3 linked regions of the Homo sapiens genome follow. The protein of the gene in region 1 purifies or fractionates together with the protein of each later gene. This does not show direct contact. Each region holds a gene or a part of one and is shown on either strand. Other genes may lie near its edges. The genes, in order: SLC43A2, ERGIC1 and EPB41L1.

The links.
Region 2: the proteins of SLC43A2 (region 1) and ERGIC1 purify together in Homo sapiens (affinity purification with mass spectrometry; one large-scale study listed by BioGRID and IntAct). This does not show direct contact.
Region 3: the proteins of SLC43A2 (region 1) and EPB41L1 purify together in Homo sapiens (affinity purification with mass spectrometry; one large-scale study listed by BioGRID and IntAct). This does not show direct contact.

What each region holds. Positions count from the first base shown.
Region 1 is NC_000017.11:1,590,819-1,594,470, reverse strand, and holds part of SLC43A2 (large neutral amino acids transporter small subunit 4), read left to right. Parts: intron 1-1,191; coding exon 1,192-1,284; intron 1,285-2,771; coding exon 2,772-2,905; intron 2,906-2,999; coding exon 3,000-3,202; intron 3,203-3,522; coding exon 3,523-3,652.
Region 2 is NC_000005.10:172,837,111-172,840,762, reverse strand, and holds part of ERGIC1 (endoplasmic reticulum-Golgi intermediate compartment protein 1), read right to left. Parts: intron 3,414-3,652; exon of another isoform or gene 3,190-3,413; intron 565-3,189; exon of another isoform or gene 1-564. UniProt on the Homo sapiens protein: Possible role in transport between endoplasmic reticulum and Golgi.
Region 3 is NC_000020.11:36,227,588-36,230,519, forward strand, and holds part of EPB41L1 (band 4.1-like protein 1), read left to right. Parts: intron 1-1,744; coding exon 1,745-1,753; 3' UTR 1,754-2,932. UniProt on the Homo sapiens protein: May function to confer stability and plasticity to neuronal membrane via multiple interactions, including the spectrin-actin-based cytoskeleton, integral membrane channels and membrane-associated guanylate kinases.

The sequences.
Region 1 (3,652 bases):
AGGGCAGCCCCCAAGGCCAGGGACGCTGGGTGTGGACAGGAAAGGTTTGCTACACACAGTGTGATGTCTCTTGAGGTTAGAGAACCTGTGCCTCTTTGGGAGGATGTAGTTTGCCCTAGGCCTGGATTTCGGTAGAATGAGCAAGAGTTAGCCTTGAAGTCCTGTTCAGGTGGGCCCCCTCTTGCCCTGTACCCAGAATGAGCTGATGTGAGATGCCGAGAGTGGCTTCGTTGGGAAGAGAGCCCGGACCTTGCTTCCCGTTGGCCTTCCAGGATGCTAACTGCTCGGGCCGAACATCCTGTGGGAAGATAATCCCCTGCTTGTACTGAGAAATTCAGAAGCAGGAGGCCGGGCGCGGTGGCTCACGCCTGTAGTCCCAGCACTTTGGGAGGCCGAGGCGGGCGGATCACTTGAGATCAGCCTGGCCAACATGGTGAAACCCCGTCTCTACTAAAAATACAAAAATTAGCCAGGCATGGTGGCGGGCATCTCTAATCTCGCGACTTGGGAGGCTGAGGCAGGAGAATCACTTGAACCAGGGAGGCGGAGGTTGCAACGAGCCGAGCTCACACCACTGCGCTCCAGCCTGGGGAACAAGAGCAAAACCCCATCTCAAAACAAAGAAAAGAAATTCAGAAGCAGGAATCCTGGGCCAGCTTCATCCTCAGACCGAAGAGAACTGTAGAATTCTGATTGACATCTTCCAAAAACCTACCCTCTCCAAACCAAAAGCAGTTTTTGCTGACATCTGGTCTTTCTGGAATGCTGATATTTTTATTTATAAAATGATGCTATTATCCCCAAATAGATTCTTATTTTTAACAGGCTTTCTCCCTTTGAGGGCTGCCTGAGGCTCATAACTTTGTTCTCTGGCATCTCAGTGTTACCCTGAAAAGACAAGAAGGCTCCTGGGCTCTGCCAGGAGCAGAGAGATAGGGAGGGTTGCCAGCCGGAAAGTCAGACAACTGCTTGTATTCTGCATTACCTCCCTCCTTGGCCCCATCAGCCTCAGTCCATGAAGGAGAAACCTTCAGTGAGCGGTCATTGCCCCTGAACTAATGCCCCTGTGAGTCACACAGGAAGGGGCGCAGGTGAAGAAGGGGCCTCATGGGGCCTAGTTCTCTGTCCCCTCCTCCTCCCCTTCCCTGGTGCATCCTCCCCACTGAGGTTTCTCTGCTTCTTATCTCTCAGCTGCCCAACATGTTCGGCGACCTTCGGTCCACGTTTATTGCCTTGATGATTGGGTCCTACGCCTCCTCGGCAGTCACCTTTCCAGGAATCAAGGTGAGCACGTGTATTTTGCACTGGTGTCTGTGCAGAGGCCTGCTCCAGGCTCCTTCCACCCTCTCTGAAGAGGGAGGCAATTGTGGGCACCCGGGGTGGCCCCTCTCCACCACCCCCACCCGGGCAGGATGCACCTGGGCATCACAGGGGCGACAAATGAAAACCGCGGGGCCTCAGGGGACGGGAATCACGCATGTGGCTGCAGGATCTGCCGCAGGTGCCTTTGCATTTCGGGGCTGGGGCAGGGGAAGGGCGGTGGGTGAGTCTGTTTCCAGTTGTGAGTCTTGCCCCCGTCTCCTCCGTCATCCTGGTCTCCCGCTGCTCCCCTGCTCCCCAACCCCCAGCCTGCTGTTATTGTACCGTTACTCCCCGCCAGCCAAAGCACTGCTCTTGGCCAAGTGTTTCAGCTGTTTCCCTCCTAGGCAGGATTTTGAGCCTGTGGAAGTCACACAGGGTCAGGACGAAGCAAACACCTCACAGTCCATCAGCCCAAGTTCCCCAGACCCTGTGGGTCTGCCAGGGCCCCGTAGGGGCTTCTCCCACCTCTGACCCTCACACTAAGTAAAAGCCCCTTTCCTCGGTGGTGTGTGTGGGAATGCTGTTGGCGAGGAGAGGGGGACACGGTGTGGGCTGGCCACCTGGGCATTGAAGTGGTGGGAGCTGGGACTCTGGGGCCAGCCATCCTATGGACTTGCAGAGATTCTCATGCCCCTGGACTGGGGAGCATCCCGAAAGTTCTTCCTCCTCCTTTTTTTGGGGGGGAACAGGGTCTTGCTCTGTCGCCCAGGTTGGAGTGCAGCAGCACGATCTCGGCTCACTGCAACCTCCACCTCCCAGGTTCAAGTGATTCTCCTGCCTCAGCCTCCCAAGGAGCTAGGATTACAGGTGCCCGCCACCATGCCCGGCTAATTTTTGTATTTTTAGTAGAGATGGGGTTTCACCATGTTGGTCAGGCTGGCCTGGAACTCCTGACCTCATGATCCGCCCACTTTGGCCTCCCAAAGTGCTGGGATTACAGGCGTGAGCCACCATGCCTGGCTTCCTTGAGCATTTCTTTGGCCTCTGCCATGTGAGCTCTCAGAGGCACTGGGGAAGCATCAGTGGACGGGGCTGGCCGGTTCCCGCCTTCAGGGAGCTCCGCTAATACCAGACAAGCCGACGGACCAGGAGCACCGTCCCCTCTGCTGGGCCGATCACTATGAGCCTGCAAGACGTGCCGTGGTCATGGCGGGGCGGTCAGGAAGGCCTCCGAGTCGGGGGGCTAATCACACGCCAGGCCCAGATGACCAGCAGGGCAGGCACGGTGGGAGGACTGGAAGGCGGGTGCCTGATGCCCCAACGCCCAGGCTGGCAGGGCTGTGCCTCTTTGCGCGGCTCAGCACAGGGACAGCAGGGGTGGCCAGACGCCCCTGCCTGCTGCGGCTCTGGCCTCCCCGGGCTAACTCTGCCCCCTCCCCCCCCCACCCCGTCCCCGCGGTGCCTGTCAGCTCATCTATGATGCTGGTGTCTCCTTCATCGTCGTCCTCGTGGTCTGGGCCGGCTGCTCCGGGCTGGTTTTCCTCAACTGCTTCTTTAACTGGCCCCTTGAGCCCTTCCCGGGGCCGGAGGACATGGACTACTCGTAAGTAGAGGTGCCCCCGTCCCGCCTGCCCCCAGCCCCCGCCCCCCAGCCGGGGTCCCGGGCAGCACCCACAGACACTCTCCCGGGGCCCCAGGGTGAAGATCAAGTTCAGCTGGCTGGGCTTTGACCACAAGATCACAGGGAAGCAGTTCTACAAGCAGGTGACCACGGTGGGCCGGCGCCTGAGTGTGGGCAGCTCCATGAGGAGTGCCAAGGAGCAGGTGGCGCTGCAGGAGGGCCACAAGCTGTGCCTGTCCACCGTCGACCTGGAGGTGAAGTGCCAGCCGGATGCCGCAGGTACCCGCCTGAGACCGCAGCCGGGCGACGGGCAGGGAGTGCTCTGTGGGTATCGGCTCACCCCATTCCCACCTCACCCCAAAAGGGGAGGCGGCCCCGCCCGCCCTGTTCTGCAGAGGCGCTCAGGAAGGCCTGGGGGAGGGAAAGGGATTTGCCTGATTTCACCCAAGAGGTGACCCCACCGCAGCGCCAACCCCGTTACCCTCACCAGGCCCGTCCCGAGGGCCCCCTCCTGGCCTCCAGCGTGGAGGGATCTGCGTGTCCCCCCGGTGGTGGGGACAGTGTGCCCCGGCCCTGAGCCCCGCACCCTCTCCCTGCAGTGGCCCCCTCCTTCATGCACAGCGTGTTCAGCCCCATCCTGCTGCTCAGCCTGGTCACCATGTGCGTCACGCAGCTGCGGCTCATCTTCTACATGGGGGCTATGAACAACATCCTCAAGTTCCTGGTCAG
Region 2 (3,652 bases), on another chromosome or scaffold:
TGCTGAAGCTGGCATCTGGGACTGCACTTTGAAGAGCAAGGTTATTAGTAGAAAGTTACGGCCCCTTACTGTCCACTTCACTGGTGGGGTAACAGAGTTGCCGAAGGTCATGCAGGAGTGATGGGTGGGACGGGAACTCCACGCCCCAGCCTCCCGAGGCAAGGCTCTCCACCGCCACCCGACCTGGCTCCCCTGCTGCTCTCAGCCCTGCTTGCTATTGCTTCTCCCAATTCAGAGCACTTCTCCTCCGTCTTGGCTGTGCATTAGAATCACATGAGAGACTTTAATATACAGCCAGGGTTGAGGCTCACTGATTTAGATGTACCGGGTAAGCCTCACCCCAAATACCCTCTTCACACCCTGCCTGTCTCTCCCACGCCTGACAAAAACTGGCTAGGAGTAACTCCAAATAAAATACGAAAGGATTACCAGATGGGGAATGTAACTTAACCAGGACACAGCTGGCTAAAGCCCTGTCTCCTGCTACTACAGCACCACAGTCAGGAATCCAAACGGCCTTGGGAGGAGAGGACATTCCATCTCATTCCATGTCCCCGCGAGCAGGTAAACATGATGCTCTAAGCTGGAAAACCCCCACTGGTCAGCGTGGGAAAACTGAGCCCCTCGAGGGTGATGCCATTAGCTGGTGTGAGGGTCTTTAAAGACCATTTCAGAATCAGGTATCACGCTACATGAGGCTAGGGGGAAAAAAGTTGATGGCTTTAAGCTTCTTAATGAGCACTGTTGGGTGAGGATTAGTGAAGAGAAACCCAATGAATCCAATTAGAAGAGTTCTCAGTTCTCTCTGAATTTAGTGAATGGAAAAGAGAAAGCTTTAGAGATGAGCCTACAGGACACAGTGGAGCTCTGGTGCCAAATGGCAGTGTTCCAATCCCAGCTCCAGGAACGGGAACGACCGTGTTTCCGAACTCTGTGGCACCTCCACTGGCTCACCTGTAAAGTGGGGTAACAACAGCACCTCCCTTGTAGGACTGTGGAGAATTAAAGGGGCTGATACAGTAAGATCCTTACAACAGTGCCTGGCACTAGCAAATGTTCAATAAACCCGAAATACTGGCCTTTTCACATAATTTTCTCTCTGGTCTAATTTTTATTTTCTTTTTGCCCTGATTTTTAAGGCTATATGTGTATGTGTATGTGTGTGTATGTGTGTGTGTGTGTATGTGTGTGTGTGTTTTGAGATAGGGTCTTGCTCTGTTACCCAGTGTGGAATGCAATGGCATGAACATGGCTCACTGAAGCCTCCACCTCCTGGGCTCAAGAGATCCTTCCACCTCAGCCTCCCAAGAAGCTGGGACCACAGACGCACATCACCACACCTGGCCATTTTTTTTTCCCCATAGAGATGGGGTCTGGGGTCTTGCTATGTTGACCAGCTTGGTCTTGAACTCCTGCAATCCTCAAGCAATCCTCCCACTTTGGCCTCCCAAAGTACTGGGATTACAGGTGTGAGCTACCACACCTGGCCCATATATATATACTTTTTTTTTTTTTTTTTTTTGAGACAGAGTCTCGCTCTGTTGGCCAGGCTGGAGTACAGTGGCAAGATCTCAGTTCACTGCAACCTCCGTCTCCCGGGCTCAAGCAATTCTCCTGCCTCAGCCTCCCGAGGAGCTGGGATTACAGGTATGTACCATCAAGCCCGGCTGATTTTTGTATTTTTATTAGAGACGGGGTTTCACCATGTTGGCCAGGCTGGTCTCAAACTCCTGACCTCAGGTAATCCGCCCACCTCAGCCTCCCAAAGTGCTGGGATTACAGGCATGAGCCACAGCGCTCATTTTATATTTTTTAAAACTTGCTGTAAAGTATATGTTCTTGTCAGCTTCCTTGGAATTCTTTCTGGAAGAAACAGCAGGGTAGAAATACAGGCATTCATGTTAGCTACTCTCTGCTGAATGTTAACTCTGTGCTCAGAGGTCCCTGTGGTGGCTGAGGCTTAGCTTGGTGTAGGAACTGATGGGGCTACCAGGGTCCCATTCCCTATTGGGGCCTAAGGAATTAAGACTGGGCCAGGTGCAGTGGCTCATGCCTGTGATCTTAGCACTTTGGGAGGCCAAGGAAGGAGGATGACTTGAGGCCAGGAGTTCAAGAACAACCTGGCCAACATAGCAAGACCCCATCTCTATATAATTTTTTTTTAAAAAGGAATTCACACTGGATCCTTAGAGCAATGAGACCCATTTGAAGGTTGAAATCAGGACATGAAAATATCAGATCAACTTTGGAAAGCTCACTAGGGAGTCCTGAGGAGGTCTGGGGTATCCTGGAGGGAGAAAGACCACTCAGAAGGCCAGAGTGAAAAATGGTAGAGGCCAAACCAAGGCCCTGCAGCAGGGCCAGCCCCATCAGGGCCGCATGACCTGTGCAGGCACACAGGGTCACACACTCAGAGGGGGGTCCATGCTTGGCTGAATGCGCTGCTGCTGCCGTCCTGAAATTCTTAATACTTTTTCAACAAGGGACTCCACATTTTCATTTTGCACTGGGCCCCACAAATTATGGGCCTCATCCTGCATTGCAAGTTGCATTGCACATTGATCCTGCAAGTGTGCATTGATCACACTTGCCCCTACATCTACTCTACCAGGTGAGGCAGCGAAGTTTACATCCCCTCCTTAAAATGAAGAAATGGAGGCTCCGAGAGGGGAAGTCAATGGTCCCAGAGCACATCTGGTCAGTGCCAGTGCAGCGGCACCCCCGAGGCCTTGGGTTTTCAACATGGGGGCTGTCACTGTGGGACAGCAGCCACCTGCACCTCCCGGAAGGCAGTGCTCAGGCACCACTGGGCCTGGGCACAGGGCTTCCGGATGCTGTTATCTTCCCTCCTCACCCACCCTGGGCTGGTGTGCAGAAGGCAGCAGGTGCTACTGGCCCCAGGCCAGCCGGAACTCGAAACAACACACACGGATGTGGGTCACAAGGCTAGTTCCACAACTGCAACAGCCAGCCATTAGTGAAACAATTTAACAAGAGCAAAGCAAACACAATAAATCATTGAAAGCTCAGCCTCCCTCCCCTGCGTTCTGCCTCCTTCCTTAACCCCAAAAACAACCTAGGAACGGCAGATTCAAGGGTGGAGAGGGGAGATTTCTCCACTAATGGCTGAAAATCTGCCCACTGAAGCTGGCATATCAAGTCACGTCATGTCTATGGCTTCCTTGACAGATTTCAAGAGGCATCTCCAAGGATCGAGTTTGGCTCAAGCACAGTTCTAGGTGCTGGAGATGCAACCTTGAAGAAGCCTGATAAAAACTTCTTGCCCTCAGGAGCTCATGTACTAATGGGAGGGAGAGAGAAGCAGCATGATAATTAAGTGAATTATATAATGTGTTAGGAGATGATGGGTGCTTAAATAAAATGACACAAATAAATATGGCGGCCAAAATGGATGAGGCGCTTACTCTGTGTCTAAATGCTTTCCGCACTGCCTCATCCCTCAACTGTTCTACTTCGGTGAGTACTCTCCTCATTCCCATTTCACAGACAGGAAAACACAGAACTCAGTTGCACCAGGCTCTACAGGCAGTAAGAAAATCAGAAGTATCCGTAGGGAAGGGCAAGAGTGCACTATTTTTCCTGCTTCTGATTTTAAGAAGGGGAACACGAGCAGGACGGCTGGTTTTCTCCC
Region 3 (2,932 bases), on another chromosome or scaffold:
TGATGAGAGTACTGAGAAAGTCAGATCGTAATTCTCCACCACCAGCCTGGTGCCTGAGGCCCTGTCTCCATGAGGGTGTTTGTCTTACTGGTCTTCATCTTCTGTTCCTTCTGCAAATCCTCCAGAAACATCTGTCCCTGCTTCAGTTAACTCTGTCTTCCTTCTTAAAGTTCTTCCTTCTTGAAGTTCTTGCTATGAGCGTGGAAAGTCACTCATGTCACACAGAACCTTTTCCCTTCTCTCCCTGCAACCTTGCAGGTCAGACGTCTGGTTTCTGCTCCATCTTCTCCCACTGGCCCACCTCCTTCAGAGAGGACCTGTCTCCCAAACACCACCAGCAAGAGGGCAGCACTTGCCTAGCTTCCTAACCTTCCAAAATTTAATGGGAAAAAATTGACCTGTTCCAAAACAGGAACCTTGGGTTTTAGTCTTGGTTTTGCCAACTTACTAAGCCTGAAGCCTCTGGGCCTCGGTTTTCCTATGTGTCAAATGAGCCAAGAAAGATCCATTTTCTGTGATTCCGTTAGCACTCGACTGCATGCAAGTAGCAGAAATGATGTTTCATCCATTAAATGGTTTTGAGTAGTTGCTATGTGCCAGGCACAGTGTTGAACACTGGAAAGACAAGAGTTAAAAGATAGCCCTTACCCTCAAGGAGATCAGAGTAGTGTGTGGTTAAATTAACAACAGCAACAATCATCATAATAAGAACAGCCAGTATTTATTCAGCACTTACTATATGCTGGGCCCTTGCTTCAGTTCCTCCCTATAATGGGAGGCAGAACCTATTTTACGGAGGAAGCAATTGAGGCTTAAAGAAGTTAAGAAACTTGCCAGGCACTGTGGCGTGCACCTGTAATCCCAGCTACTTGGGAGGCTGAGGCAGAAGGATCACTTGCAGCCAGGAATTCAAGGCTGTAATGTGCATTGATTGTGCCTGTGAATAGCTATTGCACTCCAGCCTGAGCAACATAGTAAGACTCGTCTGTTAAAAACTGTTTAAAGTAAAGGAAGTTAAGAAACTCACCCAAGATTACAGAGCTAGCAGGCCCATAGAGTGGGATTTGAACTCAGGGAGTCTGATTTCAGAGCCTGCTCCTTTAAACACTGAGTTTTGGAGCCAAACCTGGAATCCAGACTTCATTTCTTTATTTAAACACTGCTGTCTGTGGTTTAATCTCCAGGACACAGCAAGCCCACGGACAACAGAAAGGAAAACCAAATGAAAAAAGAACATCTGCAATCGTGACTAAACATTTCTTAGAGCTGACAAGATAGGAAGAAAAAGTAAAATGATGATGATCTTAGCTTCTCGGTGTTAAAGGACATTTTAACACATTGTCAGGCCAAAGTAAAAGATTACCACCTCCCTGGAAACAAGCGAGCAAACACACATGGGCTCTGGAATCCAACAGATGTGGGTTCGGTTCTCTGCTGCCACACACAAGCTGCGTGGCCTTGGAGTGCAATAGCTACTCACAGGCATGATGATTACACATTACAGCCTTGAGTTTCTCACCTCAAGAGATCCTTCCACCTCAGCCTCCCAAGTAGCTGGGATTACAGGTGCAAGTCACTCTACCTTGCTGAGTCACAATAAAGGGCATATGGTAAAGGGTAGCAAAAACAACCTCTTGCCATGTATTTTAAAACAAGTGACAGAAGTTACTAATTTTTCTTGTCCTCTTCCTTCCTTTCCCCCCACTCCCCACCCCCCATTCTACCCCATGCCTCTGGCTTCCAGGAATCCTGACCTCTGTGAAGAGATCCTGGCATTTCTGGTCCAACCCAAGCCAGAGAACCATTAAGAAGGGGCCTTCATTCTGGATTCTCCGACGCAACACTGACGTCCCAGCTGCGACGTACTGTCACTGATGAGAGACTGGGAAGGGAAAAGCATATATATATAGATATATAGAGATATAGATATATATACAGGAAACACCGCATCCTTGCACTGCTGCTGGGGCTGGCAGAGCAGTTGGCTGACAGCAACAACCGACATCTGAACACCTACATTTCCTTTGCAGACAAATTGAAGAACTGGTGGGATTTTTTTCAAGAAAAAAAATTATATAATAACTATAATCCCTTGCTCACCCCTTTCCCCCGCCAAATAAGAAACGCAAGCCAGACCACGATGATTGTAGAAGTCCCTCCCGCCCTGGTTCTGCACGTTACAGTTAGCAGACGAGCAATTCCATTTGTTCTTCTCCAGCATCTCTAAGGCCCACTTGAATGCAAAGGAAAACACTTGCACAGCAAAGCAAGAGAAGTCACAGCAGCAAGACACGCACAGTCAACCATTTTCCGAGAAAAAAAGAAAATTCCCCACTTGGAAAGAAAGAGGAGGAACACTGGATTCTTACTTTCTGGATCTTGACACTGGGCTGCAAAACCTACCTTCCTCTCTCCCGCCTCCCCTCACCCTCAACTCTCAATGTCTTGCTGTCATTTTCTGTCTCGGCTCCCTCCTCCCCCTTCCCCCTTCCCCCACCCCACACCCTTCACCCTCTGTGTCCTGGTCCTTCTGAGGGCCACTGCAGATGACTCTCCTTTGAAATGAGAAAAAGAAAAGAAAGCAAGAACAGAAAACGAAGCCACAGGAAGGGAAGTAGACATTGTATGCTTATGGTTTCTCATTATGAAGGTGCAGCTTGTAGGAGGTTTGTACGGATGTGCTTTGAAGTTATGTATATTACATATAACAGGAAAAAATATTAAAATAAACAGTGCTGGTAAGTATGAAGCTGACATTCTAAAATTATAATTATCTGACTGTGATTGATGTATCCTGAGGTTCCTAGATCTCACTGAACTGGCCCAGCTAAGGAGACCTGGACTCTGGGTGTGGGTTGGCTCACAGTAGGGGCTGACGGGTTCAGTGTAGTAATACTGTGTGTGGTGTTTGTAATTGGTTGATTGGTGGGGA